2 separate regions of the Homo sapiens genome follow, and region 2 is linked to region 1. The links come from fine-mapping of genetic effects on plasma protein levels. A gene starts in region 1. The other region holds a variant in brackets. All regions are shown on one strand. Distances are between the middles of the regions.

Region 1 (2,927 bases):
TAAAATGGAACAATTTGAGAATTTATCTAGCTGTATAATATACCAGATAAGAGCTTAGACTCTAATATGAATCTCCATATGTTAAAATGCCAGGCCCACCATTTACAGGTTATTTAACTTTGGAAAGTTTTTCAAACTCTCCATGTCTGTGCCTCAGTTTCTCACCTATAAACCTCATAAAGTCACTTCAATGATGAAATAATTATAATCCACATAAAACCCCTTGAACAGTACCTGACACAGAGTGAATAGTAAATCATAACACTTTGTTCACTGGGCAGAAAAAAAATGCTGCTAGCCCCCTGGATAACATTCTCTTCCTCTCTAGAATGGTGGTAGTATACTAGGTCCTATTGCACATATACACATTAGGAAGATACTTTTTACTAAAGTCACTTTGAATGAGAGTATTCTGGATTTAAGTGGTGCTGAAGTATATTGCATAGCAAAATCTGAGGGTAAGTAGGCATTATGATCAAAATTTCAAGTAGTAATAAATGTAAGTTGTAAACACATTTAAATCTCATTATGTCAGTTAAGGCATCTTTCAGGACTTGCAGCTCCCTTAATAACTAGATATTAAAAAGTCAATCAAACTCAGTGTTTCCTAGGGCACATATAAGGGCAGGAGAAATTCCCTTGCATAAATGAAAAACAACAAATGTGAATGCCAAAATGCAAAGCATTTGTGGAATCTTTAGGTTTTTCTTGACCATCCACCTTTCTATACAGCAATTCAATCATTTAGACAAATTTCCTTCAACAAATGATAGAAAAGAATACGAGGCTTTGAGTAAGATAAACAAGTCCATATATTAGACAGAGTCACTAGAAAGAGACCCCTTAGTAATCTTCCTTAACTGCAATTATCAGATGGGTTTTGCAAAGAATGCAAATTTATCTGTGAAAATTGGTGTATTCCTAGACTAATACTCATTATTTTAGTCTGGGAATCTGGAATAATAATACTTATGCTGGTAACTACCTTTGCTAAACTTAAGAACCATAAAAAGACACTTTCATATAACATGTGTGACTTTTTTTCTCTAGCAAGTTTTTTGCATTTTCATGTCTTTGTGAATTTTTAAGCCCATGTGCTTGGAAACTCTGGCTTCATCCCTGACATTCTACATTTCTGCTCTTCACAGACTCCTTTACCTGCTGGGCAGCCTTGTAGCTATCTCCGTGGCAAGGCAGGGCCTCTCCTGGCATGTAAACCTGCTAAGTGAATCCGCCCCTAAGGGCGTGTCAGTACCATTTCCTGGAGCAATGTCACAGGGTGGCTCCATTTTCCATTTGAGCTCAAATATTTTGCTGCTTCCTCTGTAGCTGCCAGACCTGCTCTTGCTGCTGCTCAGGTAGCTTTCTTCTCTTCCCGGCACCACTATTGGCAGAGGTTTTGATAAGCGGTTTCCACACGTGTGTCGTGTGTCTGTCTGCCTGCCTGACTGCCTGCTTGCCTGTCTTTTTTTTCCATTATATTTCTCTGTTTGTTCCTTAGGTAGAACATCTGGGAGGTCCCTTGCTGACCACTGGAAGAAGATGAGCTCGAGCTATTGGAGTGAGACGAGCAGCAGCAGCTGTGGAACCCAGCAGCTCCCAGAGGTGCTGCAGTGCCAGCCCCAGCATTACCACTGCTACCATCAGTCAAGCCAAGCCCAGCAGCCTCCAGAAAAAAATGTAGTGTATGAGCGAGTGAGGACCTACAGTGGGCCCATGAACAAGGTGGTGCAGGCCTTGGACCCCTTCAACTCACGGGAAGTGCTCTCCCCTCTCAAAACCACCTCCTCCTACCAAAATTTGGTTTGGAGCGACCATTCTCAGGTACAACAAAGAAAGCTATGCCAGACTAGTGGAGAAAGGCAATCTTCAACCTGATTTCTCTTCCTTTCTGCTTCTTTGCCTCTATTCCACAGGATATCTTTTGGTGGATTGCAGTTATATATGCCTTGGATAGTCACCCAAATTCATCTCTTGGCTGTTATTTCACTTACTAGTGTCTGTGGTTGTTTGTTTCCGGGTTTCACTGATTTTCATAATCTAACCATAGTATAGGAAGGCTCATTTTCTGTTTGATCTGACTGAAAGATCTGATCCAAGGAATCCCTTTGCCCCTACTGCAAAGCAGTTCTCAACTTGAGTACAGTAGATTTTTATTAGAACAAGTTCCTACTGATTAATTTCATATCAGAAGCAAACAGGTTTTTTTTGGTATCAAATATGGTGATACAGGTACTGTGGCATGTCTGAGTGATAAGCAATTATTTGTGCTCAGCAAATAGTATAGCTGCTCCAGGATAAGTGAGAGGTGCAGATGTCTGAATTGTCATATGTGTTTCATCTTCCAAGAATGACACACTTTTTATCGTACAGCCTAGGTGAATAATTTATGGAATACTTGTAGAAAGAGTACTGGAAGAGTTGATATAGGATTGAGGAAGGCAAGATGTAAGCAATTGTTACATGAAAGCTACAAAAGATGGAACTCTAAGACATCCCATAAAATGAAATACGTTTGTTTCTTAAGAGTTATTCTTAGCACCAATACCTGTGTTAATAACCTTCCCAATAAATACAAGGTAACCCTGCAAGACTGTATAAAATTAACAGCTTTATGTGTATTTTATCCTCTGACTCCTTTTACATTAAATTTGCATGTTTTAAGCTTTCTGGAAAATTCTGTCCAAACTGAAATTATGTTTTTAAGATACAAAAATCTCAAAAAGCAGTCATTGGGATATGATGCTATGTTACATTATTATTACCAATCAGGAGTAATACATATTATTTTTCCAAAACCCACAAATTTGAGTAGAATATAAAGTAACATTTCTCAACTGGTTGAGAAAAACTCCACTTATACTGAGGTCAAGGAGAAGAAAAATATAAAGGTCATAAATACCAGTTTGCATTAGTGATAAAAATAA
Region 2 (2,927 bases), 72 kb after region 1:
TTTCTTTTTTTTTTTTGTGAAGCAACAAAAGTAGAGATTTATTGAAAATGAAAGCACACTCCACAGGGTGGGAGTGGGCTGAGCAATTGGCTCAAGTGCACAGTTATATAATTTTATGTGGTTTAAATGTCCTCTAGAGGTTTCCCATTGGTAACTTGGTGTACACTCTATGTAAATGAAGTAGTGGCCCGTTATCAGTCGGATTGGTTGCAGAAAGTGACCAATCAGAGGCTGAAGTTACAAAGTTAAACCTTAAACAACGTCTGATTGGTTGTGGAAAGTATTTTTACTCCATCTTCCCAGAAGCTGAAGTTGTCTGTTTTTTAAACCATTTTTCTTTAAAGAAATAAGAATAATCTAGTAAAAGAGTTTCCCCTCTCTTTAAAATTTGAGATAAGCCAGGTGCAGTGGCTCACACCTGTAATCCCAGCACTTTAGGAGGCCAAGGCTGGTGGATCACTTGAGGTCAGGAGTTCGAGACCAGCCTGGCCAACACAGTGAAATCCGTTCTCTACTCAAAATACAAAAATTCACCAGGTGTGTTGGTGCATACCTGTAGTCCCAGCTACTTGGGAGGCTGAGGTGGAAGAATTGCTTGAACCCAGGGGGCAGAGATTGCAGTGAACTGAGATCATGCCACTACACTCCAGCCTAGGCGACAGAGTGAGACTCTGGTAAAAAAACAAAAACAAAACAAAAAAAACCAAAAATATTTAGATAGCTCTATACTTTAAAGTTAAACTTAATTATAATTATATTCTTCTCACCTCAGGCAAAATTCAGGCAGTTGGCAATACACTTAGGGAGATTCATTTTATTATTTGATTATTGACTGTCTCATCTCTTCTAATCTTTTAAATAAAGAATAATGTAAAAATTAAATTTTGCTGATAGAATTCTACTTTGTGACAAAGATGATACTTTATCATGGAAAAAATAATAAATATTTGTTATAAATACTAGCTATGCTATCTTCAGGAATATTATTTGGATTACTTAAACACACTATTGACAAAATGCCTTATATCACCTTTCTAATTTGCCATATCAAAGTAAAATTATTAATAAGTTTGCTAGTAGGAAAAAAAAAACTTTCACTTATATTGCCTATTTTCAAATGTTAATAAAACTAAACCATTAATCCTTTCTTCCTGCAGATGAGGGGTATGTCTGATAAGTCACTCCGACTAGTGCTGTCCACATTTAGCAACATACGGGAGGAGCTTGGACATCTTCAAAATGAT[A/T]TGACAGTAAGATTTATTTTGATTTTTTCCAAAGCCTTTCTAGTTACTAGCTTCCTAATACAGAAATAAAGATGTCCAGTATATGTTTTTAAAATTTAATATAGCACAATATTATGCTTATTCAGACAAAGCTAAATTATTTTCTTCAAACAGTTAATTGGCATTGAGAGAGGAGAAAAGAGGTATCCAAAGTATAAATGAAAGAATGTTGGATGTGCACTTATCATTTAGTTTACCACTAAGGCAATTTAATGCTTAAAGCCAGAGAGTCATCTGCAAAGTTAAAATAATCTGACTCATTGGAGGTAAATTCCCCCTTTTTCATAATTATAAAGCATACTCTGAATTTCCATTCAAATATAATAACTTGAAAACATTTTTCTCCAAAAAATTAATTTTTTTCCATTTTCTATTTTAATTGGTGTTCTTGGTGCCATCAGCTAGATACATTCAGAATGCTTTCCACACATTGAATAATGCCTTGAGGACTTTGGAGTAGTTTTGTTGTTTCTGGGTTATGATGAACATATTTAGACTCTAATTTAAAAATTTACCACTCGCTGGGATTAACGAGGACTCTTTGTAGATTGGAGGAAAACATTAAAACATTTCAGAGGGTTGTGCTTCATTTCATGTATAGTTAGTCCATCAAAATGTCTCTTTCAATGAAGGTTTTAGAAGTTTCAATCATTTCCTATCCCGTATTTTCTTAACTTTTAAGAATTCTGCTTTATTAAGCAAGTACAAATGAAACAAGTGCTTATTTAAATCTTCCAAGGTAAGCAAGTCTTTGTATTATGTGACTGTTAAGTTTTTGCAATTCTGAATCATAATAAATAATTTATGCTTCTAGTCACTGGAAAATGACAAGATGAGACTTGAGAAAGATTTATCATTCAAAGACACTCAATTAAAAGAGTACGAAGAACTCTTGGCATCAGTGAGAGCAAATAATCACCAGCAGCAGGTAAACTGATGCTTTTATTGGTGTTAATCTACATTGATAGCTTTTCATATGCACAATTACTGGCACATTGGAGTTATGAGATATAATCAAGACAGAATTAAATATGATGGAAAAATTTGTTCATATGAGAATTGAGTGGCTTTGGGTATTTCTAATGGCTGAAAGCCCTCTCAGAAAAACAGATAATCTTATCTATTTTAGATATAAAGTACATATGGGACACAATTATTTGTCTTGTTGGGTGACCAGAATTGTAGAAATACTAAAAATCTAGGTTCATGCATTTATTTAATGTACTAACATGTCAATGAGAAAAGCTGTTGTAGACCTTAATACATGTTTGTGCAATAAATAAATGACTGAAAAAACTCTAGATGAATTCTCTGGATGTCTGAGCAGAGAGAATTCCTAGGAAATTGTAAGTAGTCTCTAAGGATTACCCTCTTCCTGATCTTTACTCCTATGGCTGTCCCAAATTCTTGCTCAGTTACTAGTTGTCATGTAAATAATCAGGCATATGGTCGTTTCTGTGCCTACTAGAAAGCAGGGTACAGTATTGTCACAGAGTAGCAAGAGTCTGATTGTTAAATTGAGACATTATAAATTCATCTAGTCATGATTCCCTCTCTCACAAAATAGATGAGTGAGACTAGAGGCAACACTATAATATCTTACATGGGTGACTTAATGTACCATCTAAGACCCAGAGTATAAGA

Direction of the effects. Positions count from the first base shown, and alleles are read on the strand shown. Strength reflects both the effect of a copy and how common the allele is.
In carriers of allele T in region 2, the plasma level of the protein whose gene starts at base 1,332 in region 1 tends to be lower than with A alone (moderate association).

The links. PIP is the chance, under the fine-mapping model, that this variant and not a neighbour inherited with it causes the effect. The UK Biobank Pharma Proteomics Project read protein levels with antibody pairs (Olink). The fine-mapping took linkage between variants from a reference panel, not from the people measured, so its PIPs are less certain.
Region 2: its variant is fine-mapped to the plasma level of the POF1B protein (UK Biobank, PIP 0.96). The variant lies in the coding sequence of POF1B. If it changes the protein, the assay may bind it differently, which can mimic a change of level.

What each region holds. Positions count from the first base shown.
Region 1 is chrX:85,378,070-85,380,996 of GRCh38, reverse strand. POF1B (POF1B actin binding protein) reads left to right here and starts at 1,332. Exons shown (of 17, transcript NM_024921.4): 1 at 1,332-1,358; 2 at 1,502-1,824. The coding sequence starts at 1,543.
Region 2 is chrX:85,306,447-85,309,373 of GRCh38, reverse strand. It overlaps POF1B (POF1B actin binding protein), which reads left to right. Exons shown (of 17, transcript NM_024921.4): 10 at 1,158-1,250; 11 at 2,098-2,211. Among named protein-coding and RNA genes, the nearest start is that of ZNF711, 64 kb to the right of the region's middle. The variant A/T (reference allele first, on the strand shown) is at 1,245.